4 linked regions of the Homo sapiens genome follow. The protein of the gene in region 1 purifies or fractionates together with the protein of each later gene. This does not show direct contact. Each region holds a gene or a part of one and is shown on either strand. Other genes may lie near its edges. The genes, in order: SQSTM1, HDAC6, CD44 and RIGI.

The links.
Region 2: the proteins of SQSTM1 (region 1) and HDAC6 purify together in Homo sapiens (affinity purification with western blotting; 6 studies listed by BioGRID). This does not show direct contact.
Region 3: the proteins of SQSTM1 (region 1) and CD44 purify together in Homo sapiens (affinity purification with mass spectrometry; 4 studies listed by BioGRID and IntAct, with this or other methods). This does not show direct contact.
Region 4: the proteins of SQSTM1 (region 1) and RIGI purify together in Homo sapiens (affinity purification with western blotting; 5 studies listed by BioGRID). This does not show direct contact.

The regions. Positions count from the first base shown.
Region 1 is NC_000005.10:179,816,725-179,823,911, forward strand, and holds the start of SQSTM1 (sequestosome-1), read left to right. Parts: upstream 1-4,180; 5' UTR 4,181-4,212; coding exon 4,213-4,417; intron 4,418-6,233; coding exon 6,234-6,329; intron 6,330-7,133; coding exon 7,134-7,187. UniProt on the Homo sapiens protein: Molecular adapter required for selective macroautophagy (aggrephagy) by acting as a bridge between polyubiquitinated proteins and autophagosomes.
Region 2 is NC_000023.11:48,805,065-48,812,088, forward strand, and holds part of HDAC6 (protein deacetylase HDAC6), read left to right. Parts: intron 1-373; coding exon 374-458; intron 459-566; coding exon 567-607; coding exon of another isoform or gene 608-611; exon of another isoform or gene 612-1,303; coding exon 1,304-1,400; exon of another isoform or gene 1,401-1,544; coding exon 1,545-1,642; exon of another isoform or gene 1,643-1,896; intron 1,897-2,968; coding exon 2,969-3,073; intron 3,074-3,193; coding exon 3,194-3,262; intron 3,263-7,024.
Region 3 is NC_000011.10:35,198,147-35,205,170, forward strand, and holds part of CD44 (CD44 antigen isoform 1 precursor), read left to right. Parts: coding exon 1-100; intron 101-2,499; coding exon of another isoform or gene 2,500-2,771; exon of another isoform or gene 2,772-2,935; coding exon 2,936-3,049; exon of another isoform or gene 3,050-3,521; coding exon of another isoform or gene 3,522-3,524; coding exon 3,525-3,641; exon of another isoform or gene 3,642-4,398; intron 4,399-6,365; coding exon 6,366-6,494; intron 6,495-7,024. UniProt on the Homo sapiens protein: Cell-surface receptor that plays a role in cell-cell interactions, cell adhesion and migration, helping them to sense and respond to changes in the tissue microenvironment.
Region 4 is NC_000009.12:32,523,176-32,530,743, reverse strand, and holds the start of RIGI (antiviral innate immune response receptor RIG-I), read left to right. Parts: upstream 1-4,547; 5' UTR 4,548-4,577; coding exon 4,578-4,683; intron 4,684-7,568.

The sequences.
Region 1 (7,187 bases):
GGCGCCTGGACCCTTCCGGGGTCACTTTGCCGTCTTCCTCCAGCCCCCCTCCCTACTCCTTGTCGCCGCCCCCCCGTCTTTTCAGGACCTTGCGCACTCAGGCTGGCCCTATGCTTTGGGGTACCCCAGCAGTGCCCCCGGGTCTCCGGCCACCCGGTGACGGAGGGAGGGAGAGGCTGGCGAGGGGGCGGCGCCTTAGGTCCCAGCGCGACCCGCCTCTCAGCCCCTCCCGCCGGCTACAGCCGCGCGGGACGGGGCAGGGACCTCGAGAACACCGGGGACTTGCGGGCCGGTGGCCCCGGGCAGGCCACTTCTGACGCGGGTGCGAGGCCTTCCGCGGGCGTGCACGGTTGGGCCGGAGCCGCGCCGGGGGCCGGGACACGCCTGGGGTCAGCGCTGGCGTCGCCGCTCGGGTGGGGTGGGCCGGGTTCGGGTCCAGTCTCCTCCCCACGGGCGGCCCGCGCCCCGTCTTCCAGTGACCCCCACATCCCTTGCGCCCCGAGCTGGAACTTCGGCAGGTTCTGCCCCGGGCCGCGCGCGCTTTCTGGGGACCAGGGCTGTGGTTCCTGCTCCGCGTCGTGCCTTTAGACACCGCCGGGCGTTCGTCCTCCATCCCTCCCCCCTTTTCCCCACTCCGCGGTTGACGAGGGCCGCCCCCAAGTGGCCATGTCCCCCGGCATGGACGACCCCTCAGTGCCCCTGAGGGCCCAGGGTCTCGCCCCCGTCCCGAGGCAGGCCATGTTTGAATTTATTTGGAGAAATTCGCCCAGCCCAGGGGACCTCTTTCTGCAGCTCTGGCCTTCCAGTAGGAGAGGGTCCCTGGGGCTCTCAGGCCTGACAACTTGGCATCACTGAATTCTCTAACCATGTCTGTCCATGACTTGAACTCCTTTTCTTTTAGAAAGATCTTTGCAAACCCCTTGTGGGCGTGCCCCTCCCATGGCCCCCGTGCCTCTTGCCTGGGCTTTGGGCTTGTCTGAAAGGGCTAAAAGGGGGTGATGCCTGGCCGGGCGGGTGGCTCACGCCTGCAGTCCCAGCACTTTGGGAGGCCGAGGTGGGCGGATCACCTGAAGTCAGGAGTTCAAGACCATCCTGGCCAACATAGTGAAACCCATCTCTACTAAAAATACAAAAATTAGCAAGGCTTGGTGGCAGGCACCTGTAGTCCCAGCTACTTGGGAGGCTGAGGCAGGAGCAGGAGAATTGCTTGAACCTGGGAGGCAGAGGTTGCAGTGAGCTGAGATCGTGCCACTGCACTTCAGCCTGGGTGACAGAGAGAGACTGTCTCAAAAAAAAAAAAAAAAAAAAAAAAAAAAGTGATGTCCAGTGCCTGGGGATTTTTCCTAGGGAGTGGTCAAGGAAGGCCCCGCTGAGGAGGAGACATTTAGGGTGGGAAGTTGCCATGTAGGGCAGGAGTGGAAAGGGTTTTGGACCAGAGGGAGAGCCAGGGAAAAGTCACCAGGTAGAATGAGCTGGCATGATTAGGAAGATGGCAAGGGAGGGCTGTGGCCCTCCCATGTGAGTGGAAGGGAGTGGCTGCAGCGCAGAAGGCCTGGAGGCCCCCGCACAGACCAGGACCTCTGTAGAGGAACTCATCCCCTGTGTCCCCTGTGATTGTCAATCTCCCTAAAGATGGCCCAGAGCAGTGCGGCCTGAATCCCTCAGTGGCCTTGTCTCTGGCTGCCCCAGCACCCACGCGGACACTTGACTCCACGCCCCAAAGAAAAGAAGCGAACCTGGGAACACCACTGCCAAGGCATAGGATTATTTGGGAGGGGGGAAGGGGGAACTGAGGAGGTGGTTACAACATGCTGGGCAGCAACAGACAGAACCAGACCACCCCTGTGGCTGCCCCGGCTGGTCTCCTGGGACCACTGGGCGCTTGGCTCAGGCCTCTCCTGCCCTCCCCACTCTTCCACCTCAGCCCCCCTGCAGTCTCTGTCCTGCCCTGACCCCCCAGCTTACAGCCCCAAAAGCAGCTAAACAACTCGCACACCCACGGGGCATCGCCTGGGAGGGCAGCCCAAATCCTTCCACTTCAGCCCCATTTGAAAGATGAGGAAATGAGAGGCTGGTCCATAGTGGGTCTCGCGGCTCAGGTGCCGAGCCTTCCCTGGGCATGCACGCCGGGCCCTGGAGGGTGGGAAGGGGCCAGTGGACGCGGGGAGCCTGCGGGGTGGGACTGCATCGGGAAAGGGGAAGGAGTCAGAGGCGAGAAGGGGGAGAGTGTCTGTCTGGCTCCAGCCGCTGCACGCTCTTCCTGCTCAGGGGACTCACGGTGACCCCGGAGCCACTCCCCAGCCCAGCCTCCAGGTAAGAGGTCACTGAGATGGGTGGCAGCAGGGGCCGGGGATCCCCCTATTACGACAGCGGTCATGGGACGCTGACTCACTGCCGGCCAGACCACCTGACCTCCGCGGCGGGAGGAGAGGGCCCTGCCAGGGGGTTCCCGCCGCGCCTTGTTTACCTCCGGGAGGCCTCGGCCTCGCGTGGGGGCAGGGCGGCCGCTGGGGCCGCAAGGCGTGCGGGGAAGGGCCAGAGCCGGGTGTCCACCCCAGCTTCCCAAAGACTCCCTCTTCTGTGCTTCCTTCTCCCCTCCCCGCCCCCCCCCCAGTCTCTTCACATGCCCCTAGCCCCCGCGGAAACTTCCCGCGATCCCAAACGGGCCAAATGGCGAGAAAGCAAAGGAGCTCCTTCTTGGGGGTGAGTGGGGCGCCTTGAGCGCTTCCTCAAAGCTATGTTCCCAGAGCCACAGGCCTTCCTTGTGTCCCTCACCCTGCTCAGACCGGGCCATAGCCGGGGGCTGGGGCAGGAAAGCCGGCCCTCGGCGGGGGCCACGTGGCTCTCAGGCGCCTGGGCTGCTGAGTCACGCTTGGCCAGCACCTGTCTGTAGGCCACAGCCTCTGCCAGCACGCCCCTCTGTGTCCCCTGCCCCTGTCTGCAAGGCAGTGGCTCCAGCAGGCCCTGGGGCATTTTCCACTCTCCACCGCCGGATGCAGGGAGAGGCCTGAACCCTCTCCACAGGGCTGCTCTGGGCAGGGTGGAAGCCTTGCCCACTTCGGAGCCCTCCGGGAAGGATCATTCACACCTGTGGACCAGCCCCTGCTGTGCGCACACCCACACATCACCTTCGCACCTGACTGGCCCCATCCAGCCACTCTTGCCTCCCTCTGGGTTTCCTCCCCTGGGAGGTTTCTCCAGCTCCTGCAAGCCCTGGGCTGAAATGGCATGAGTTGGACCCAGCAGGTTCTGACCTCCTACTCACAGGACCTTGCCTGGGAGGCTCCAGAGGGTGACCACTCGTCCTGCCCCTCTCCTTGCCCCAGTTCTGGCGGACAGGTTACTCTGGTGGCATAAAGCAGTGTTTCTTCCTTCCTAGCTGAGGAGGCTGTTGGCTGACCCCCTTGGCTGCCCACAAGGCCAACGGGCCTGAGCCCCCACAGGGCCATGGGCATTACCTGCTGAATTGAGGAGCCCATAAGGAGTCACTTGGACCACAGTGAACACTTGGCGACCACTGACACTCAGGAGACCTTAGCTGGTCCTCCAGCACCTCTCAACTCCACTCCTACTAAACTGGGAACTTCTCTGGTGCTCAGGCCAGAGTCGGGGTCCGTCACCGAGTATGCTATGCGCTGCCCATCACCGAGGATGCCATGCGCTGTAAGAGGGCTGCCACCGCGGCAGGCTGACCATGGCAGGGTCGGAACAGCAACCTGAGAGCCAGCTTGTTCTGGCCAGCAGTGCCCACTGGGCGACCTAGCAGCCTCCTGATATGGGGGCTGTGTCCCCCTCTCCCTGCACTGGGTACCCCCAACTGAGGATATTGCTGAGTCATGGCCAGGCCCAAGCCTGGGAGGGGCGAGGGGCTGGACCCCCGCCAGTACCCTGATCCCAGGTGCAGAGGCTGGAGCCCAGGCCTGTATGAGTGCCAGGGCCGGTTTCCTGGGGTCCTTGGTGCACCGGGGCAATGAAGAGAGGGGTCAGCAATGAGGGGGCCGGGAGACCTGGAGCGAGGGGTAGCGGGGAAGGGGAGAGTAGTGAAGGGGCCTCTGCAGGGCGGCTCTCGCGCCGCGACGACGGTGGCGGGGGCGGGGAGGGCGCGAGAGACTCCGCCCCTCTCGAGGCGGGGCGGGGCCTCCGCGTTCGCTACAAAAGCCGCGCGGCGGCTGCGACCGGGACGGCCCGTTTTCCGCCAGCTCGCCGCTCGCTATGGCGTCGCTCACCGTGAAGGCCTACCTTCTGGGCAAGGAGGACGCGGCGCGCGAGATTCGCCGCTTCAGCTTCTGCTGCAGCCCCGAGCCTGAGGCGGAAGCCGAGGCTGCGGCGGGTCCGGGACCCTGCGAGCGGCTGCTGAGCCGGGTGGCCGCCCTGTTCCCCGCGCTGCGGCCTGGCGGCTTCCAGGCGCACTACCGCGGTGAGCGGGCCGGGGAGCGGCGGGGGCGGTGACGCAGGCCGGACACGGCCTCCTGCCGCGGGGTGGCTGCCCCCTCCCTTCTCGGCGACGCCTGGCGGGCCGTGAGGGGGTCTGCGCTGGCTGCTCCCTGGATGGCGGTGGCCTGCATGGGTCCCCAGTTCGGCCATGGGAGCCGGCCTGGTGACTGGAGTGGTGACCAAGGCCGGGACCCGCTGCTCAGCGTCGGCCCCCTGGGGCGGTGGAGCCCTGCCGGCCGGGGGCTCGAGCCTGGGGGCGTCAGACGCCCCGCTCCACCCCCCGCGCTGTTGGGGATTTTGGCAAGGACGCGCCGGGGCGAACGCTCTGGCTCTCCGCGGGCACTGGGTGGTCAGGCGGGCACTCGGGTTACACTGACACCTTGCTGCGCCAGGTGGTGGGTTCAGATAATGCCCTGGAGGAGCCGGGCGAGCGCCGGCGAGGGGAGGGAGTGACGCGGGTAAACAAGCGCGGGGGTGCGGGGGACTCGCGAGCGCCGCGACAGCGCCTGGGAGAAGGGCACGGATCGCCGGCGGAACGCTCCGAGCCAGGTCGAGTACAGATGTTTTCCCATTGGCAAGTGGACGAGAACGTTCTTCAGAAGTGTTGGTGTTGGCACAGAAGCCCTGTTTCCTGCTGCGCTGGTGTGACCAGTGGCTGCTGGGGGTGGGGTTAGGGAGGTGGTTGTGGCCAGGAGGGCGGGAGGTGGCCAAGGCCGGCCCCTGGGAGGGTGCAGTGCTAGGACCTCCCTCTGGAGCGCTGCCAGCATACCAGGCCCTCTCCTATTCTTAAAAAAAAAAAAATTGTGATGTTATTGAGCTGTAACTGAAATAAGGGTTCACCCATTTAGTGTACAAGTCAGTGGTTTTCACTATTTTCATAGGTTTGTGGACCATATTCAGTGTGAGAGCTTTTCATCACCTTATAAACGCCATACATACCTTTTATCACCCTCTTATCCACATGCCCCCAGCAACCTCCTTTCTGTATCTATTCATCTTGCAATCCTGGACATTTCATGTAAATAGAATCAGACAATGTAGTCTTGCAAGTGGTTTCTTTCACTTAGTGTAATGTGTTCAGTGTTGTGGCACATATCAGAACTAGTTTTTTTTGGAGGAATAATATTCTGTTGTGTGGACAGGCCATGTTTTGTTTACCTGTTCATTAGTTGACAGACATTTGGGTTGTTTGCATCTTTGGGTGCCTCACCTGTGCCCTCGGTGGATGGCGTGGTTTGGTCTGCACAGCTGTGCTTTAAAGCCATTTCAGCTCATATGTATCTGTCACAAATGGAGACTACATACAAATACGTGTCTTTCAGCTTTGTTAGGGAAGGAAGCAGGCAGATGCCCTTGTCTTCTCCTTTACTCCCAAGCCACTAGAAGTCTAAGGCCTTTGTGGGGCTGGGCCCCTCAGGAGCAGGTCACAGGCAGGGATCTCCCACAGTTGAAGACGGACATGGGCCTGGTCGGATGGGGAATGAGGTGGCACGTTTCTGAAAAGGCAGCTGGCCCAAGGCTAAATAAGTGCAGCAGCCAAAGCTGCTGCCCCTGTGCACAGGCCCTCCGCCCCCTGCATGTGGCTGTGGTCCAGGGCCCAGGTCGGAGCACTCACCTTCCAGGAGGTGCCAGAGCAAGGGGGTAGTCTTGCCTCTCACTCCTGCCCTCTGTGGCTCAAGTAGGTGTGTTTGTTTATAGCCCTGTGAGTGTCCCTTTCATACTTGCCTCAGCCCATTCCAGCAGCTTATGTCCAGCTGAGAACCCCTGGGTGCTCACGTGCTGTCTTTTAAACAATCTAGATGAGGACGGGGACTTGGTTGCCTTTTCCAGTGACGAGGAATTGACAATGGCCATGTCCTACGTGAAGGATGACATCTTCCGAATCTACATTAAAGGTAAGGGGCTGCTCTGGGGGCTGCCTGAAGCCAGCTCAGCTTGTACTCAGTTCCCTGCTGAGTAAAAAACAGGGCTCGATGTTCCACCAATGAAGGGGTCAGCAATTTGAGGGCTGTTTAAGACAGAGACATAGGCCAGGTGTGGCTCACGCCTGTAATTCCAGCACTTTGGGAGGCCGAGGCGGGCAGGTCACCTGAGGTCAGGAGTTTAAGAACAGCCTGGCCAACATGGTGAAACCTTGTCGCTACTAAAAATACAAAAATTAGCCGGGTGTGGTGGTACATGCTTCTAGTCCCAGCTACTCAGGAGGCTGAGACGAGAATCACTTAAACCTGGAGAGCGGAGGTTGCCATGAGCCGAAATCACATGACTGTACTCCAGCCTAGGCGACAAAAAAAAAAAAAAAAAAAAAAAAAAAAAAAAAAAGACATTTTAAGTGCTGTGCCTGACCTGAGAAAGAGGAGTCCATGTTCACTCTAGGGATGGGGTCTGGTGCCGTGGTGCTTGGGTTAGGGATGGGGTCTGGTGCCGTGGCGCTTGGGTGAAGGGCAAGGCCAAAGCTGTGCAGACAGGGCTCCTTGCTGCTGCTCTGCTGCCTGGGCCAAACAGACACAGGGACTGGGAACCTCCTAGCAGGTTCTTGGTGGCTCTGCTGCCCTCACCTAAGTGGCTGAATTTTGTGTGGATTCCATGCTGGAGAGCAGGGCCGGGGGCCTTGCTGGCAGTGACAGCCCCACAGTGACGACAGAGGGGGAGGACTTTAGGGGGTCCCACCCTAGCGGCTCTCTTTACCCTTCCTGTAGAGAAAAAAGAGTGCCGGCGGGACCACCGCCCACCGTGTGCTCAGGAGGCGCCCC
Region 2 (7,024 bases), on another chromosome or scaffold:
GATTGTTTAGGGCCTTCTGGGCATGGGTAATACTTTGGCTTTTACTCAGAATGGGATGGGAGCCTCGAAGGGACATGAACTGATTAGGGTTTTAACCAGTGTCTAGCTGCTATGCACAGAAAGGACCGTTGAGGTGGCGAGGGTCGAAGCAGGGAGGCCGAGGAGATGCCGCCACAGCCCAGGCGGGAGGGTATGGTAATAGCAGTGGCAGTGGTGAGGAGAGGGTCACACACCAGAGCTGATGGGAGGCAGGACTGACACCACAGTTTTGGGGTAAGCAGCTGTGGAAGGGTGGATGGGGAGATGTGGAGAGAACAGATGTGGAGCTCCCCAGTGTCCTCATGCATCTGTGACTGTGACTCCATCTCCCCAGCTTCCCGGAAGGCCCTGAGCGGCTCCATGCCATCAAGGAGCAACTGATCCAGGAGGGCCTCCTAGATCGCTGCGTGTCCTTTCAGGTAAGGCCCCCAAGCCAACACTCTGGGTGAAGGGCAGGGAGCTGACCTGACCTGGGTGCAGCCCATGCCTTAACCCTTTACCCCACTTTATTCCTCATCTCTCCCCAGGCCCGGTTTGCTGAAAAGGAAGAGCTGATGTTGGTTCACAGGTGAAGGCTTGGGAGCCTTGTAGGGATGGGGAGGAGCCTGCCCTGGACAAACCAGGGCAAGCTAAACGCTTTGGGAAGCAATGTCATGGTCTCTGCAGCCAGCCTTGGGCAAGTCGCTGAGCCTTTCTGAATCTGTGTCATCGCCTGTAACAAGGGGACCAGTAAACATAAGTTCCTCAGGAGAGTTTGATGTGTGTCAGGTGCTTAGAACAGGGCCTGATATATAATCAGCCCATGATGAGCTATTACTGTTATCATGATCTGATTGTGTGAATAGATGGTGGATGTGTGGACAGAGTGATCGGGGTTCCCCCAGGGGCTTCCAGATTTAGAGGCCTAGTGCTATGTGGCTTGAGGAAAGCTAGCTTCCAGAGCAGGTATCTGAGCTGAACTTTAAGAGGAGAAAAAGAGTGAGTCAGATGAAGAGGGTGACTGAGGGAAGGGAAGAACAGACAGCTGAACCAGTGTGGCCAAAGGCCTGAAAGTAGGATTTGGTGTGGCTACTGCAGGGGAGCAGAGAACATTACCTGAACTGAGGCGGGCTAGGGAAGAAACAGAATGTGTCTTATATCCTGGCTATTCCTTCAGGTTGACAGTTGGGGGAGCCAAGCCCTAATTTGACCAGGGGGTTGGTGTATGGACAGCTCAGTTGGGGAAGAGACAGGGCCCTGAATCTCATCTCCCATCTGTGTCTAGCCTAGAATATATTGATCTGATGGAAACAACCCAGTACATGAATGAGGGAGAACTCCGTGTCCTAGCAGACACCTACGACTCAGTTTATCTGCATCCGGTATGGATGAGAACTCTGCGGGCAGGGAATGGTGGCAATCTTGGGGTCCCCATCCCTATGCCCACCCCACCCTGGGGGAAGCAGCTGAGTGGATAGGGCTGTTCTCTCCCTTACTCCCTTTCTGGCTCCCCACTGTCTCTCCAGAACTCATACTCCTGTGCCTGCCTGGCCTCAGGCTCTGTCCTCAGGCTGGTGGATGCGGTCCTGGGGGCTGAGATCCGGAATGGCATGGCCATCATTAGGTAGGACTCTACAGCATTTGACTTTTTACATTGTTTTAAAGTCCTTCCTTCAAGTGTAAAATGTATTGATATGGGTAATATATTCATGTGATTCAAGAATCCAAAGGTAAAAAAGAGAATATAATTAAAAATCTGTCTCCCATCCTTGTCACCCAGACACCTGCCTCCTCTCATGGGAGGTAGTCATTGGAACCACTGACTCATGTGTCCTCCCACAAAGTCTTATTCAAGAAATAAATACCATATTTCATTGATTCTAAGGTGTACATTTTTTCATATTTGTAACATCTTGAAATCCAGATGCATCTTACAAACAGTGACATCTCAGAATTCCATTGGCAGTATTTTCTGCTTCGTTTTTGGCATGTAAAATCATGGTACATCTTATCATCATTGGCATCCCAGAACTGATGAAATGCAAAAGCTTTCTCCTCCCTCCCCTGTTTTTAACCACAAATGGTAGTAACATGACATACTCCCTTCGTACCATCTTTTCACTTACACATCTTGGAAACCTTTCTCTAACAGTATGTATCTTGGAGCCCGGTAGAACACCATTGTGTAAATGCACTCTATGTTAATCAGTCCCCGACTAATGGGCATTTTGGTTCTCCCCAGTCATTTGCTGTTTTAAAAAAATGCTACAGCAAATATGCTAGTACCTTTATAAAAATAAAATTTTATTTTACACTAACATAAAATAAAAATGTTACTTCACCCTTTTTAAAACACAGGTTGTGGGCTAAGTTCCTGCAGCAGAATGACTGGGTATGAGAATGAATGCGTTGATCATTTTATTTTTATTTTTATTTATTTATTTATTTTGAGACGGAGTCTCGCTCTGTCACCAGGCTGGAGTGCAGTGATGCAATCTTGGCTCACTGCAACCTCTGCCTCCCAGGTTCAAGTGATTCTCCTGCCTCAGCCTCCCAAGTAGCTGGGACTACAGTCGCCCGCCACCACACCCAGCTAATTTTTTGTATTTTTAGTAGAGACGGGGTTTCACCGTGTTGGCCAGGATGGTCTTGATCTCTTGACCTCGTGGTCCACCCACCTCGGCCTCCCAAAGTGCTGGGATTACAGGCCTGAGCCACCGCACCCGGCCTTTATCATTTTAGTGAACATTTTCAAATCTCCTTTGGAGACAGAGGGGTAGATTGGCAGGGGGTGAGAGTTTGAGGGCCTCCATTACTCAGTTCCCGGCAGATTTTTAGGCATCAGCATTAAAGGAATTGGTGGTCCAGGATTAGAGAGCAGGGGACAGTCTGTCTCTGCAGAGGAGGACCCCTCACATACTCCAAGCTGTTATTTCCTTGTCTTGCCCAGGCCTCCTGGACATCACGCCCAGCACAGTCTTATGGATGGCTATTGCATGTTCAACCACGTGGCTGTGGCAGCCCGCTATGCTCAACAGAAACACCGCATCCGGAGGTCAGCAACAGAGGGCAGATGTGATGGGGGTGGCATGGGGTGGGGTGTCCTGGTCTGGGCTCTTCCCCCAGATTCACCTTGATCTCCTTGCACAGAGTCCCCTCTCTCTGCTGCTCCTAGGGTCCTTATCGTAGATTGGGATGTGCACCACGGTCAAGGAACACAGTTCACCTTCGACCAGGACCCCAGGTATACCCCGACTCCCACCTAGGTGCTAGACTCCCAGCCACCTCCCACCCTTACAGGCCCAGCCAGAAGGGGTCCAGAAGGAGGAAAAGGCATTCACATTCATGGGGCCTATCCTGGGATCAGGATCTGTGCTACTTTTGTGTGTCTGCCATCTCTCCTAATTTCACTCTGAGGCAGGGACTGTTGGGTTCCCTATTTTACAGATAGGGGGACTGAGGCTTATACGTTAAGAGGTCACACAGAGAAGAACTGGGAGAGACGGGATTTGACCCACAAATATTTGAAGATCTTATTCACTGATTAACCGTTGGGTTAGAGTGAACCTCAAATTACTGCTTTATTTTTTCTGATTAGGATAATGCTTCAAAGTGTTTGTTTATCCTTTCAGTAGATAGTAAAAAACAAATATAAATAAATAAATAACAAACTATTTGTTTAAAGAAATTAAATAATACAGAAGTGTCTGAAGCAGTGAGTCTCCTCTAATTTCCATTACCTCAAAAATAAGTGTTGACAGTTTAGGTTATATCCTTACAGATTTTCTCTATAGATGTCTGAATTTTTATTATTATTGTTATAATTATTAATAACACACTGCCTAATGGAATAATTCTCCACATGTTCTTCGACAACTTGCTTTATTCATTTAACAGCATATCTGGGACATTTCTCCATGTTAGTACCTCTTAAAGTATCTCGTTCTTTGTAGTATTCAATTTTATGACTGTACCTCTGGTTATTTAACCCCAGGACTTTTAAGATGCCTGCCAGTTTTTGCTATTACAGGCACTTCTACTGTGAATAGTCTAGTAAATATGTAATTCTGCACTTCTCTGAGTCTATCTGTAGGATGAATTTCTAACAGTGGGTTGCTTGGGCCAGAGAGTCAGCATACTTTAAAGTCTGGTATACACTGCCAGACTTCCCTCCAGGAGGGGACCAGCTTACCCTTCCTGCAGAAAGTGATTGAGCAAGTCCTTGTCAGTAGGAGACATTACTAAGTACATGTCGAGTATCCCTTATATGAAGTGCTTGGAACCAGAAGTATTTCACATTTCAGATTTTTTCAGATTTTGAAATATTTATATTATACTTAGTGGTTGAGCATCCTTAATCTGAAAACCCAAAATCCGAAATACCCCAATGAGCATTTCCTTTGAGCATCATGTTGGCCTTCAAAAAGTTTAGGATTTTAGGGCCGGGTGAAGTAGCTCACTCCTGTAATCCCAGTACTTTGGGAGGCCGAGGCGGATCACCTGAGGTCAGGAGTTCAAGATCAGCTTGGCCAACATGGTGAAACCCCGTCTCTACAAAAATACAGAAAAATTAGCCAGGCGTGGTGGCACACACCTGTATTTCCAGCTACTCAGGAGGCTGAGGCAGGAGAATCACTTGAACCCAGGAGGCAGAGGTTGCAGTGAGCTGAGATCGCACCACTGCACTCCAGCCTGGGTGATAGACTGAGACCCCATCTAAAAAAAAAAAAAAAGTTTAGGATTTTACAGCATTTCAGATTTCAGATTTCTAGATTAGGGATGCTCAACCTGTAGTAGTTTTATCTAGCCTTCTTCCTAGCTGACTACAGAGAATCCACTTATCCAAGATCTGAAGAATCCAATTTAGGTTGGTTGTTCTCTAGACATTGCTTTATTATTTTGCAGCATTCAGTGTTCCTGACAGGTGTCTGCTTTTCATTCCTTTCCAAGTAATCTACTTTCCTCTCTGCAAGGTTATCTTGGTGTTCTTTTTTTTTTTTTTTTAAATTATTAGACAGGGTATCACTCTGTCACCCAGGCTGGAGTATAGTAGCATGATCATAGCCCACTGTAACCTCAAACTCCTGGGCTCAAGCAATCCTCCTGCCTCAGCCTCCCAAGTAGCTAGGACTGCAGGCATGTGCCACCACACCCAGCTAATTTTTTAAATTATTTGTAGAGACAGGGTCTCACTATATTGCCCAGACTGGTCTCGAACTCCTGACCTCAAGTGTCCTCCCACTGCAGCCTCTCAAAGCACTGAGATTACAGGCATGAGCCACTGTACCTAGCCTTGATGTTCTAAACTTTTACCCTGGCCTTTTCACTCTGTTTAATAGTAGGTAGACATTTTACATCTGAAGATTCATGCTTTTCTTAAACTCTTGGAAATTATTTTCTATTAGATCTTTGATAATTTCTTCTTTGTTTTCTCTGTTCTCTTTCTAGGACTTCTGTTAGTCAGATGTTAGACTTCCTGGGTTGATCCTCTATGTCTCTCTCTTTTTTATTATTTATTTATTTATTTATTTATTTATTTTTTTTGAGACAAGGTCTTGCTCTGTTGCCCAGACTGGAGTACAGTGGCACAAATACGACTCACTGCAGCCTCGACCTCCCGGGCTCAAGCAATCCTCATGCCTCAGCCTCCTGAGTAGCTGGGACCACAGGTGCACACCAGCATACCCAGCTAATTTTTTAATCTTTTGTAGAGATGGGGTCTCACCATGTTGCCCAGGCTTCTTATTTTTTATCTTATGTTTTCTGTCTCTTTTTTCTTTTGCTGTGACCTGGGAGATTTTGTCAACTTTATCTTCAAGCCCTTCTGTTGAATTATGTATTTAGATATCCTGTTAAACTCCAAAAGCTCTTTCTTCCTCTCTGTTTCTATGTCCTCTCATACCTGATCTTGTTTTTATAGAGTATGGATTAGAAGTGCCGGCTGGGTGCGGTGGCTCATGCCTGTAATCCCAGCACTTTGGGAGGCCGAGGTGAGTGGATCACTTGAGGCCAGGAGTTCGAGACCAGTCTGGCCAACATGGTGAAACCCCATCTCTACTAAAAATACAAAAATTACCCAGACGTGATGGTGCGCACCTGTAATCCCAGCTACTCAGGAGGCTGAGGCAGGAGAATCGCTTGAACCCAGGAGGCGGAGGTTGCAGTGAGACAAGATCATGCCACTGCACTCCAGCCTGGGCGATAGAGGGAGACCCTGTCTCAAAAAAGGAAGTGCCTTAAGTTTCTTCTGTTGTCTGAGTTATGTCTCTTTATTCTGAGGCTGGTTGAATTATTTTTTTCTTGGTCCTTCTCTTTTATGCTGATGGTTTTCCTCAAATGTCTAGCAATCCTTATTTGGCTATTTATACCCAAGAATGAAGGCCCATTGTAGGGGGCTGTCAGAGGACTACTCTGCTGCAGTGTTTGTAGGTCTGTTTTCCTGAAAGGCATTTCCCCAGAATGGGGACAGGGAATGTCCACTGACAGGTTGCAACTTTAGCGAGTGTGGGCAAGGACCCGGGCATTAGATGGGATCCTGCCAGATGTCAGAACAAAGGAGGCCTCTTCTTTGGGGTAACATCTCTTTTTTCCCTCAGCCTTTCCAAAGTGTATCTGTTGTACTTATCTTTTCCAGTGTAGCTTTGGGCTTTGTTGGTCATCTCTACTGTTTTATTATGGTGGGTTTTTAATACTTCATTAATTTTTCTGGTTTTATCTTTATTAATGTTTTCCTCCGACGTTCTTTATTTTGTTCATTTCTGGCTTCTGGAATTTAATGCTTCAACATTTATCAACTCATTGGCCGATCTCATTTCATCTATACCTGTACCCACTGCCCTCTTCCTGTTTTCCTTCAAAGCTAATCCCAGATACCATATAATTTCTCCTGTAAATATTTCAGAATGCATCTCTAAAACATAAGTACACTTTTTTAGAAAAGCATTACCTTAGTATCAATACCTGAAAATTAACAATAATTATTTTTTTAATCTGCCAAGGGTCTGTC
Region 3 (7,024 bases), on another chromosome or scaffold:
GGCTGGGAGCCAAATGAAGAAAATGAAGATGAAAGAGACAGACACCTCAGTTTTTCTGGATCAGGCATTGATGATGATGAAGATTTTATCTCCAGCACCAGTAAGAATAATCAATTACAGTACAGCCATTTATGCAAGGCTTATTGATTAATCTGAGTGATACCAAATTGTATCTCTCTTGAGAAGTAGTTAATGTGAAAAATGGGTGAACCTATGATCATACCTTAGTTATATCTTGATGAGATTATGGAAGAAGAAATAGAATGTTTTGAGAAGTGGGGAAAATATCTCACAAAATTTCTCTTGTCTCATGTTCTTCCTGTTTTATTTATCTATGGGATCTACTGCTACAGATTGTCTTTGAATGATCAGGCTTTATCAGAGAATGACATTAAAACAGTACAAAAAATGTACATTGTGTACTTACTGTGCTAGGTGCTGGAAACACGAAGATGAAAAGAGCCAGAGCCTTTGCTTTTCAGAAGCTCATGGTCTGTTGGAGCAATAGACTTGAAGAATGTGATGAGGAGGGTATTAATTAAAAGTTGTAGGCCAGGCGTGGTGGCTCACACCTGTAATCCCAGCACCCTGGGAGGCCGAGGCGGGCAGATGACGAGGTCAGGAGATCGAGACCATCCTGGCTAACACAGTGAAACCCCATCTCTACTAAAAAATACAAAAAATTAACCAGGCGTAGTGGCGGGTGCCTGTAGTCCTAGCTATTCGGGAGGCTGAGGCAGGAGAATGGTGTGAACCCAGGAGGAGATCGCGCCACTGCACTCCAGCACTCTAACCTGGGTGACAGAGCCAGACTCCATCTCAAAAAAAAAAAAAAAAAGTTGTGGAAGTTCCTAAATTGAAGGCCCTAAAGGCTTAAATGATGGGAGCTAGAACTCAAGAATTATCTTAGTTAATCAAAGCCCAGCTGAGGTCAAAGGAACAAATCCAGAGTTTTAACAAATGAGCTGGACACCAATATAGCAGAAAGACCTTGAAGGGAAGGGCAAATGTCAGGTTAGCTTTAGCAAGACATTGCCACTTATTAAAAGCAAATAATGAAACCACTATTGGTACATAATAGTATCCAAATTTTTGACAATTATAAAACTTTTTGAGAACAAAGAGATGGAAATTGAGCTTTAAAGATATCCTTAAAAAGTTAAAAACATGCAAAGGTTGGTCTAATATTCTGCCAGATTACTGAGTTTTCCACACATACCTGTAATGACTTAAGATTTTGCTGAACAGAGCTGAGAATCCTGAACCTGACTCCATCACAGTTCTGCTTTTCCTTAGAAAAAAGGCTTTTGGGGTGCTGTGTGAGCTCTCCCAATTCACTGAAGTTCTATCCATTCCATTAAAATCTGAGAATTTCATCCTCAAATGGACAGAGAAGAAAGGGTCCAGAAAAAAAAATAGCTTAGGCCTTGAAGGCATCTGAGTATATAACATTGATATGACAAATACTCAAAAGGAACTAGAATTTTCTATCTAAACTTTTAAGTGATTTTTTTTTTAGACCCGACACCCCTCCAGAGCTTAATCTATGGAATAAGAAAATTCCTTTTGGTAACTTCAGAACAAAAACCAAATAATCAAAAACACTGGAGTTTTACATTATACTGTCTCCTGTGTTCAGCATGTGGCCCAGCTTTGCAGATGGGCCCATCAGTAAATACGTGGTCTTGATACTGAAGAAATTAAATTCCCTTGGGTGGTAACCCAAACAGATCTACCTGTAAATGAATTGTATGGTCAGGCTTCAGGGAAAAATTTCCCATGGTGTTGTTTTTTTTTTTTTTTTTTTTTTTTTTTAATTTTTTAAATCTCTATGGCATATTTTTCCAATTTCTGCTTTTCTTTTTTTTTCTTTTCTGCTTAGCACCTATGGACATAATTCAACATGATGCCCTCTTTCTTCTGGAGGGGTGTGATAACTGCTTGATAATAAGCACTTTTTCAGGCCTATTGAGAATGTGGTTAATGATTCTAAACTTGATTTTTCATAACTTGTAAAATAGAGCTGACAGTATTATAGTTCTGAAAACAGTTTTGCGTTATTTGGGTATCAAAATAAAGTTTGAAACAATTAGGATGGATTTGCAAATAACCTTTCACAAAACATGTTGACTCAGATTTTGTCATGATCCTTCTGTTAGGTGCATCTCTTATTCCAGCCCTAACAGATTGGGTGACAATATCAGGGTGCTGGTGGATGTACGCCTCTTTCTTTCCAGTGTGCTGCTATGATGGTGGCTGGTTACCTGTGGTGTCTTATTTTCTTTCACTGGCTATGAATGGCTTGCTCATGACATATTTTGTATTTGATGAGAATACCATAGTGTTTGATAAATATTCAGAAATGTATCGCTAAAACATATGGCTATTCTAGGTATTCTTTTTCAGAATCATCTATAGGAAAGCTCTAGCTGCTCAGGCATTCCTTTCCCCACTGAAATTACTAACAACATAAAGTGATTATCATGGTATAACTTTCAGTTATCTGCCTCTTCACCCGGAGGATCTACAAACAGCACACAGTGACTAAGTCCCTGGGCTTTCAAGTGCAGAGGGATACTACAGACTGCATGGATGGGCAAAATGGCGCCTTTGGTTATCCTCGGTGGAGGGCTGGTGTTTTCAAAGCTGTCCTTCCTACTGCTGCAGCTTCTTTGACTGTTTTATCTGGAAGATCTCATGTTCTGAACCCCAAGGTATTCTATGACAGAATGCAAAGGACACTGAGATGCTTACCAATATGGCTGAATTAAGCTGAAGTCACCCTCCGCTTTCCCTCCATTTCCATGCAGCCATCTATACAACCTGGTATAGATGATTCATTGCATAGCCTACAGAAGCAAGACTATGTGCGGGACAAGTGGCGAAGGCTCAAGAAATAACATTTTTCTAATTGCTTCAATCATCGTTATCACAGTTTCAACCACACCACGGGCTTTTGACCACACAAAACAGAACCAGGACTGGACCCAGTGGAACCCAAGCCATTCAAATCCGGAAGTGCTACTTCAGACAACCACAAGGATGACTGGTAATGGGTTCTGCATATTTAATGAAAGATTTTTTTCCCCTCAAAGCCCATGATGCTGCAAAGGTCAATCATCGAGGCACAGTGGGAAATTTAGTTAATATCTGATCAAGAAATTCTTAGTGGACTTTTATGAGGATACTTAATTCCATTTAGGAGTCATTTATCAATTATACCATGTGGGCACAGGATTTTTTATGTTGCTTCATGATAAAAATGAATATGTTTGAATGGTTTGTGGTTCTGCCTTTGACAAACTGATCATAGTGGAATAATAAGGGAACATGAAGAAATTCCAAGCCCATTGATTTTCTCTTGAGACCAATTAGGTAAAGTCACTCAAAATTTTTGAGAGTGGATGCTCAGAGGTAACACTTTGGCATAGAATTGTTAAATAGCATGCACTTTAATGGAAGAATAGAATCATTAAAGATTGGTTGATAACAAGTCACAGTGTATTTAACCATCATCACAGCAGATGTAGACAGAAATGGCACCACTGCTTATGAAGGAAACTGGAACCCAGAAGCACACCCTCCCCTCATTCACCATGAGCATCATGAGGAAGAAGAGACCCCACATTCTACAAGCACAAGTAAGCAAGATGGCGGTCGGCAGTTCTGGGTTAGATGAATTAGTAAAGACATTCCAGCAATAGGGAAGATTTTGTTTAGAAATTGGCCGCATCTTCTATTTCCACTCGGTAATTTCTTTTATTCTTAGAGCCTGAAAAGCTGCTAAACCCGCACACAAATTTTAAAAATTGGAAGGAAAATGATAACTCATCAGGTTGCCCAAAGGCCAAAATGTTTTAAGAAGTAGATCTAGATACAATTTTTGTGTTAAAGGTTCCTAGAGGTTCCATTTGGGTAACTTGTGTGTGTTCATTGAAATGTGTGGCAAAGAGTGTGTTCTTTTGGTGCTTAGTAGTGGAATCTGGAAAGAAAGTTTGTCAAGTGAATTGATCTTTGGAATCCTTATTTTCTATGAAGATCTTTGATGAATACAGTGTCTTTTTTGCATTCTGTCCCTGACTGTTCTATAGAAAGACATCCCTTGTACTCTTTAGAGCAAAGTTGGTAGCTCTTATGGTCTTCATTTGAATTCTACCACTGCTTCTTTTTCTGTTTTTAAGCCCATGGTAACTTGGGGAAGGCTTTGATGCTCTTACTGTTATTTCTACTATTATGAAAACTCAGGTTTTCCAAAACAATCTCAAGTTGCGGCAGTGGACTGTGAGAATAGGGGGCCCCCTCACTCCCCAAACATAAGAAGTATGTGCTTTTCTTCTTTTATCTATCCCGCTGAGATATGTCTATCTTATTTGGAATAAAAGTATTTATTTTGGAAAACAGCTTTTTAGCATTTTTAAAATGATGACCCAACTGTCATTCTCACAGCCCTAGATACACCTAATGGGGAAATGTGAGCCACTTAAAAGCCACTTAAAAACCAAAGGGCTTTGGGAATCTATGGCTTGAGGGGTGCCTTCAGATAACAAAAGAAAAGTTTCAGGTATCAGTTAGGATAGAGGTTAGACATTGTACTGAATATATCCAGCAGATCTTACATCCCATTACAAACCCCAGTAGGTGTGTTGTATACATACGGCTTAGGGGTTAAGTTAACAAAGAAGTCTGATAAGAAAAGGAAATACAGAGGAAGCATAAATCTCTTTGGAATAGGATTTTGTTCCACTCCCTTAGAGCCCTAACAGTATACCTTAGAAATTATTTTAGACAGTTTGTACTTAAAGACCAGAAAGCTACTTTAGAGACTTGGAAATAATGAGCCTATTGTCAAAAGGTGGTGCTTGCGGGGCATTAGGACTAGAGGGTTGGTGAAAATTCAGACAGAATGTAACTTGACAAAGAGAAGACAGCAACAACTGTAACAATTATCTTATGAATATTTGCGAAACTCAAAGGGATCTGATTGGTGACCTCTGGGCTTTATCAAATTAACATCACAACTTCTAGAAGAAAGTCAACCTTCATCTTTTACAATAGAAATCATATGTTTTGCTAACCCATTCCTATTTAGGCTGAAAACAATTAAGAGTTATGGGTACTTAAAAAAATCATTATGTTTATAAAATTAGTGATAGAAGGAGCATAGTGTTCTATACAGTCACACACATACACTTCCTTATTTCTTTTATTTAAACTTTGAGTAACATAGCAGTCTATGTTTGGGTCAGTTTTCCCTTTTTTGTAATTACATTCAGTGGTTTTTGTAACTTCATTATTTATTGGGAATTAGTGATTTAGTCAGTGGGAGTTTTGTAAAACTTAAGATTTTGGCTTTTTTCCCCCTCCTCCTGGATAACCAGTTAACCCAATAATGGCTTGGCCGATGGAAGGGTAAAATGAGGACAGTTATATTTTTTAAATGTCATTACTGTCACCAAATCACACATATCATTTTCTAAGATAAGGAAATACAACCATTTTTACAAGTTGCAAAAAAGTACTCTGGCTTGGCAAGTTTATAGACTCTCATTTTCTTGATAAACTAAAAAAAAAAAAGAAATTGCTACAAGCTGCTATAGACAAAAATGTTGGTGTCTTTCTGACTTTTCCTGAAGACACCTTGATGGAATTATATTCTCTTGATTTTGTCCTTTTTAAAATGATGGTTGAAATTTTAAGCCTGTCACACACTATTATTTATATAATGCCTCAAACTGGCTTGGATAGTTTTCGTCAACTGAATTAATTTTGTTAAAAAGTGATTTTAGCAATTTTAGGTGCCATGTGGACATCACCAAATACTGTGTTAGTGGAATAGCATCCAAGCCATCCCACCATCTTTCCTGCTGGGCAAATCCACTGCTGGTGCATTTCCAGTGTGTGCGATTATGGGTTACATGACCACCATTTGAGAAGGTCTCCTAATGTGCTGATCTTGTTATTAGCTGTTATACAGTGTTTTCCTTTCGTCAAAATGACTGGAGCAAAGAGGTTATTCTTTGAATGGTTTTCTCAGACAGGGTATGTGAAGCCATTCACTACAGTAAAATAAAAATAATAATAACTCATAGAACTATGAGAATTCATCAGCTATGGTCTGCTTAGTCCTATGATTTTGAACAAATCAAAACTTCTTTGGACCACAATTTTCCTAGCTGAAAAATTAAACATTTGGATCATTTGATTTCTCATATCCCTTTTAGAATATCAGTGGCCTGTTTCCTTGGTGCCTTTCTTTTCTACCTTCCCTCCCCATGTGTATCTGCCCTTAAAGTAGAAAGATATGTTGACAGCTATTGGTGAGGAAAATAGACAATTATGTCTCCCAACTGATATTCTTCTCACAGTCCAGGCAACTCCTAGTAGTACAACGGAAGAAACAGCTACCCAGAAGGAACAGTGGTTTGGCAACAGATGGCATGAGGGATATCGCCAAACACCCAAAGAAGACTCCCATTCGACAACAGGGACAGCTGGTAATGGATGGTTTAACAAGTAAATTTGGATGGAAACTTCCTTTTGGGTTAAACGGTAGACATTGAGGACATTGAACAAAAGGACACTGGAGGAATTGTCACGAGATGTTAGGTTACTTAATAAATTATGCTGCAGTTCACACAGAGCCAAACCTTAAAGGCTCATAACAAGTCACCTGAACAGGAATGGATACAAGCCAGTTATGAATAAGAACAGGAAACACAGAGAAAATGCCCTTGAACATGTCTCTTTCACATCGAGTTTTGGGCATCATCTAGTGAGATTGTAGCAGAGGCCCTGATAAAATATCGCTGTCTGTTGTATAAAGGAATCTACTCTATAATGTGGGTCCAGACTTTACAATATGATTCTGCAAAGTCTGGCTGTGAGAAAGCATTTTGTCAGAACTCCAGTGTTTGAAGAAATAGAGCCAGACATTATGTGAAAAGTGACACCTGTCTGATGTCATTTGGCCTTTTGGCCATGCCTGTTCAGTAATTTGTTTTTGAGTATAAAAAAGGTATCTTCT
Region 4 (7,568 bases), on another chromosome or scaffold:
TAACATATAGAAGTACAGTTTCAGACAATGATAGCAAAAAGGATGGGGTGGAATTACATGGTTGTGATGATCTTATATTTTACCTAATGTGGTACAATATTAGTTCTAAATAGATTAAGTTGAGGATACATATTATAATCCTTAGTGCAACCACTAAATACACACACACACACGTATAAAATAATATGTAGAGTGTATACAAATATATATGTGTATGTGTGTATGGAGAGAGACCTATAGCTAAAAGAATACAAAGAGTTATAGCTAAAAGAGGTTAAAGTTATATTTGATTAACGTATATCCAAGGAGTCCATTTTACTGGATGACACAGCAAAACCCTGTCTCTTAAAAAAATAAAATTATTGAATTAAAAGTTTGTTCTTTGAAAAGATGCAATTGGTAAATCCCTGGCAAGACTGATTTTTTAAAAAGGCAAAAAAGATAATAAGGTCTATCACGAACACCATATGCCAATACATTTAACAATTTAGAGGAAATGATCAAATTCCTTGTGTTAAAATATAAACTTTTCCACATTAAAATTTCAAGCTGGCCAGGCGTGGTGGCTCACACCTGTAATCCCATCACTTTGGGAGGCCAAGGTGGGTGGATTGCCTGAGCTCAGGAGTTCGAGACCACCCAGGCAACATGGTGAAACCCAGTCTCTACTAAAAAAATACAAAAAAATTAACTGGGTGTGATGGCACATGCCTCTAGTCCCAGCTACTTGGGGGCCGAGGCAGGAGAATCTCTTGAGCCCTAGAGGTGAAGGCTGCAGTGAGCCAAGATTGTGCCACTGCACTCCAGCTTGGGCTACAGAGTGAGACTCTGTCTCAAAAAAAAAAAAAAAAAAAAAAAAAAAAAAAAAAAAAATTAAGGTGTTCCAGCAGTGATTCATAAATTAAGCAGCTACAAACCAGAAATGGTCTGGGGCTCTGTTAGAGGGGGTTGAAGGGACACAGAGCAAAGAAATTGTTTCATTGGTTAAAGTTTGAGTGTTTGCCTTATTTGGACTATCCAAGTGAGAAATTTATGACAATATAACCAATGTCCCAGTTAGCCAACTGTGATTGGCTAAACTAAGTTTCATTTTCCTCATGAGGGTGTTACAGCTACATCAGTCTAATGGCCTACCAATTATTTTAACACTTGAGAAGCACAATTTATCAAAACTGATTAAAGATTAAAAGTCAGAATAGCTTTATATCTAATTGAGAAATTGAATTCATTATAAAGAATCTTCAAACAAGGAAAATGTCAAGCCCAAATGGTTTTATTAGTGAATTCTGTTAAACATTTAAGGGGAAAATGATACCAATCTGAAACAAACTCTTGCTTTATGAGACTAGCATAACTCTGATATCAAAACCTGATAAACACATTACAAGAAAATAAAATTATTGACTAATATTCCTCATGAACACAGACACAAAAGTATTTATGAAAATACTCATTTGGTCATGATATAGCATCCTTTGTATCTAAAACCAAATGAGATTTATCCCAGGAATGGTAGGTTGGGTGAACGTTCAAAAATTGATCAGTGAAATTTGGTATGTTAACAGAATATATGATCACCTCAATAAATGCAGGAAAAAACATTTGAAAAATTCAACACCCATGCATTATAAAAACTCAGCAAACTAGGAATAAAAGAGAACTTCATCAATCTGATAAAAGGTATCTAAGAAAAATTTACAGCTACCATATTATTTAAAGTGATTATTATTACATTGATGATTTCCCCACTGAAATTAGCAATAAAGTAATGGTGTCAACTGTCACCACTTTTATTCTATTTTCTATAGGAGGCTCTAGGAGGTACCATAATAAAGAAAGGAGGCAAAAAGCATGAAGACCGGAAAGAAAGAAGTAAAACTGGCTGGGCATGGTGGCTCATGTCTGTAATCCCAGCACTTTGAGAGGCCGAGATGGGCGATCGCTTGAGTTCAGGAGTTTGAGACCAGCCTGGGCATCAGGGCGAAACCCCATCTCTACAAAAAAATACAAAAATTAGCTGGGTGTAGTGGTGTGCACCTGTGGTCCTAGCTACTCAGGAGGCTGCAGTGGAAGGATCCTTGAGCCTGGGAGGTGGAGGCTGCAGCAGCCTGGTTGACAAAAGTGAGACCCTGTCTCAAAAAGAAAAACTATAATGAAAGGAAATAAAAGGCATAAAGATTGGAAAGGAAGAAGTTAAAGTATGTATTCACAAATGACATCATTATTTATCTAGAAAACTTAGAGGAATTTACAGAACAATTACTAGAACAAATAAGTGAAGTTAGCAATGTTGCATGTTTTAAGGTCAAAAAACAAAAATCACTTGTATTTCTTTTTTTGTGTGTGTGTGTGAGATGGAGTCTCACTCTGTCGCCCAGGCTGGAGTGCAGTGGTGCAATCTCGGCTCACCACACCCTCCGCTTCCTGGGTTCAAGCGATTCTCCTGCCTCAGCCTCCCGAGTAGATGGGATTACAGGCGCCCACCACCACGCCCGGCTATTTTTTGTATTTTTAGTAGAGATGAGGTTTCACCATGTTGGCCAGGCTGGTCTCGAACTCCTGACCTCAGGTGATCCACCCACCTCAGCCTCCCAAAGTGCTGGGATTACAGGTGTGAGCCACCACACCCAGCCAATCATTTGTATTTCTATACCGTAGCAACAGACAATTTGAAAATGAAATCTTAAAAACAATTCCATTGACAGTAGCATCAAATAACATAAAATAGTTCAGAATAGCCAGGTGTGATGGCCCGTGCCTGTAGTCCCAGCTACTCTGGATGGCTGAGGTAGGAGGATTGCTTGAGTCCAGGTGGATCCCTTGAGCCCAAGAGTTCAAGGCTGTAGCACACTATAATTGTGCCTGTGAATAGCCACTGCACTCCAGCTTGGGCAACATAGTGAGACTCCGTCTGTAAAATAAAATGAAACAAAACTAAAATACTGCTGAGAGAAATTATAGACCTAAGTAAATGAAAAGGCATACCATGCTTATGGATTAGAAGACTCAATATTGTTAAGATGTCACTTCTCCCCAAGTTTATCTGTAGGTTCAATGCAATCTTGATCAAAATCCCCATAAACTTTTTTTGGGGGAAGGAAGGGGTAATTGACAAGTTGATTCTTATTTCATATGGAAATGCACAGGGATTCAAGGTTGCAGTGACCCCTGTTTGCACCACTGCACTCCAGCCTGGGAGACAGAGTGAGACCTTGTCTCAAAAAAGAAATTAAAAAAAAAAAAAAAAAAGGAATGCAAAGAATCTCAAATAGCTAATATCTTCACAGTGAAAAACAAATTTGGAGAACTTAGTAGTACTTGATTTTGAGACTTAGTTGAAATCTAAAGTAACCTAGAGACAATGGTATTGTCAAAGTAGTAGGAAGTAGAATATAACAAGAGTCAGAAATAGACACATATACATTCAATGGACTTGGTTTTTTTACAAAGGTCCCAAGGCTATCCAATGCCAAAAGGAAAAGTTTTCAACAAACGGTGCTGAAACAATTAGAAATATGGAAAAAGTGAACCTGGACCCCCCATCTCACGCCACAACAAAATTATTTTGAGATAGTAATAGACCCAGAAGTAAAGGCTAAAAATATAAATCTAAAAGGAAACAATATTTTCATGACCTTGGGGTAGGCAAAGATTTATTAAAGAGGACACAAAAAACAACAAACAGAAGAAAAACCTGAAAATTGCATCAATATAAGTGTCTGCTCCTCAAAAGACACCTTTAAGAAAATGAAATGGTAAGCCACAGACTGGAAGAAGATATTTCGAATACATATATTTAACAATTTTGTATCCTGAATAAATAACTCCTGTAAATCCATAAACCAAAAAACTCCAAAGTCAGGCAAAAGATTGGAGCAGATGCTTCACAAAAGATATATGAATGACCCAGTAAGCACATGCAAATGTGCCCACCATTAATTATATGGGAAATTAAAATTAAAACCACAATAATATACCATTTCACACCGACCAAGATGGAAGTTAAAATTAAAAAAAAAAAAGAAAGGCTGACCAATGTGTCTATCTACTGGAGCTCTCCTACTGCGGGTGGGAATGTAAACTGGATGTAATCAGTCATTTTGGACAACAGGTGGCGGTTTCCTATAAAGCTAAACATAGACTTACCCTGGCACCCAGCCGACGTGGGAGAACTGGGTACACAGGTGTACACTTTACAAAACTCATCGAATTGCACACTCAGATTGTGTGCATTTTACTGTGTCTAAACGTTAGCGCTATAAAAGCAAAACAAAATATAAGATCATAAAAATAAAAGCAATTCCTAGGGGTCCTCTCCGTTCCCGGGCTTCCTCGGTGCGGAGGGAAACGAAACTAGCCCGAGGCAAAACAGCCTCCGCGAACCCCGCCCGCCGCTAGTTGCACTTTCGATTTTCCCTTTAGTTATTAAAGTTCCTATGCAGCTCCGCCTCGCGTCCGGCCTCATTTCCTCGGAAAATCCCTGCTTTCCCCGCTCGCCACGCCCTCCTCCTACCCGGCTTTAAAGCTAGTGAGGCACAGCCTGCGGGGAACGTAGCTAGCTGCAAGCAGAGGCCGGCATGACCACCGAGCAGCGACGCAGCCTGCAAGCCTTCCAGGATTATATCCGGAAGACCCTGGACCCTACCTACATCCTGAGCTACATGGCCCCCTGGTTTAGGGAGGGTGAGTGTCTCCAGCGGCGCCTTCTCGGCGGAAAACAATTGAGGACTTGTTTTTCTCTTGCTTCGTTCCCTTCTTTTAATCAATGCAGAGAGCCTGCCAGACTCCCCAGGTTTGTGGTAAGATCTCCGCAGCATTTTAGGCTAGAGGTTGCCAGAGTTTGAGGAGCCCTCGGAGGCCTAGGTGGGGAAACTGAGTTCCAGCGAGGTGAAGTGACTTGCTTAAGGGTGCTCATCTATTTAGGTTCAAAGCTGGGGAAGAAATTTTGTTTCATTTATTTTCACTAATATTAAAGTCTACTGTGTGCTTGGCTGGGTACTGACAGAGATTGAGAAATAAGATAAGGGCTCTTCCTTAGTATACATTACAGTCCAAGGGATGGGACACAAAGGGCAGATAATTACAGTACTGAGCACAAAGTGCGGTCTGAGCTTAAAGGAAGTTGATGCTTACTCTGCCGAATCTTATTTGCACGCCTAAAGAAGTGGAAGCTGGAGAGGAGCCGGACTTTTCCAGACCGAATAGCTTTAGGCTTTAATACAGGTGTTTCCATCTAACTTCGGAGACAGGTGATCCTGGGTAATGACCATTTTGTAAATTTGTATCGAATTACTTTGTGCTGGAGATGAGCAGAGGCTTCTGGGAAAGAGGTGAAAGGAGGTGGTACTTAAAAGATATCGATGAGGCCGGGCGTGGTCCCTCACGCTGTAATCCCAGCTGTAGAGCACCCGATGCTGTTGCTGTTCGGGGTGCCACTATGTAACCCGCACGGACCTAGGGGACTGAACAAAGAGGGGCGAACGCGGGAATAAAAGACAAGAGACAAAAGAGTATATCTGGAAGAAGGGGTCAGGGGGCACCTTGCCTCTAGTGGACAAGGGCCCTGAGCTTTACACAGCCCTTCTTATTAGGCAAAAGAGATAGCGAGAAGGGGAGGTGCTTGTTGGCTGGCTGCTTGATTCACAGCAGGCTTGCAAGACTGCATTCTTTGAACAATAGGTGCTAGATTTCTCAATAAATAATTTCAAGGAGCCTGGCGCCAGGGAGTGAGGCGCTCAGCAAACCATTTGGTGGCAAGGCAGTGTGAGTTTGCCCAGGTGCTGCATTCATGATAAACAGTTTGCTGTTTGATCATATAGCCTCCAGCGGAATGCTGAGTTGGTCACATCCCAAGGGCCTTCGGCTCCCTGCAGCCAGCACTTTGGGAGGCCTAGGCGGGTGGATCACAAGGTCAGGAGTTCGAGACCAGCTTGGCCAATATGGTGAAACCCCGTCTCTACCGAAAAATACAAAATTAGCCAGGCGTAGTGGTGCACTCCTGTAGTCCCAGCTACTCAGGAGGCTGAGGAATGAAAATCGCTTGAACCAGGGAGGCAGAGGTTATGGTGAGATCGCACCACTGCACTCAGCCTGGGTGACATCGTGAGACTCTTGTCTCCAAAAAAAAAAAAAAAAAAAAAAAAAAAACCGAAAAACAAAAAAAAGTCGATGAGAGGGGGCCTGGGAATCCTAAAAGTCTCCAAGTGCCAGTCTTTCCTGATGTTATTGCAGTTTTTGGAAATGGCGTTAAGACCGGCAACTAACTTGAATGCTAATTGCTCTACAAAACTAAAAGAAAGGTTGTGGAATGGCATTCTAGTGACCAGTGTAGCTTGGCACCTGAAGAAGTACTTGGAAGAAACACTAACAACTGGTGTGAATTCCATTTTTTCATGCACTCATATATTGATTTGATACACTTTGATGGAATAAAATAAGCAACTCGTGTCAGTATTATGTTAGCATTGGAGGTAATTTACTCAGCACCTATTACCTAATAGTGTCATTGAAAGTTGAGGAAGCAATGATGAGCACAGTAGAAACTGTCCCTGCCCTAATAGTGATTAGTGTGTCTATGTGAATGCAGGTAACAAAATAGTAAATAATAAAGTGCAGCAGTGCTTTGATGGAAAAAAGCTGGGATGTCTACTAGAGTCCAAAGGGCACAGCCAAAGCTTCCCAGATATTTGGCATTTGAACTGAGGTCTAAAGAAAGAGGAAAAATTAGCTGGAAGGAGACAATAAATTGCAGTTAGAGGGCTCCTTATGTGCAAAGGTCCAAGGTGAAAGAGAAACTAGAGTGTTCCAGGTATCCAGAAAATATTAGTATGGTGGCATTGTGGAGAGAGAGGCAGGAGTTCAGAGAGATGAAACTTGACAGGCAAGCAGAAGTGGGATATGAACAGTTTTGGACTTTATCCACTGAAATGTGATAAGGAGAGGGGACCAAAATAGAATTTGCATTGTAGAAAAACGACTTTGACTTCAGTTTGAGGAATGGCTTGAATAGGTACAAGACAGGGAGAGAGAGAATGGCAGATGCAATGATGCCAGGACAGCAGAGTGGAAAAACTGGAAGCAAGGATACCAGTTAGGAAAATAGGAATCCGGAGGAATGGGGAGAAATGGATGGATTCAAGACACATTTGGAAAGTATAATCAATAGGTCTCTTGGGGAGTTGTGGTGAGGAGGTAAGGGTGAGGACAGGGTGGAAATGACTTCCAGGTCTCTGGCTTTGGTCCTTGGGTGAATAAATGGTAGTTTCTGAGATAGGAAATGTGGGAAGAGGGACAGGTTTGCAGGAGGAGGAGAAAAATTCGGATTTAGGTATGCTGGGTTTGTATGCCTTGGATACATCCATGAAGAGATGTTCATCAGATTGTTGGCTGCACAGGTGTGGAGTTCAGGAAAAGGGTCCACAGTTGGGGAGACATTAATGTGGAGATCCTTGCTGAAACAATGAGAGTGGGTGCAATTGTTACTGAAACACCAGGGATTCAGCCTAGGTTCTTTTGCTGGCTGCACATAAAGCCAATCACTGAGACAACAAGTTTTGCCAAGGCTTTAA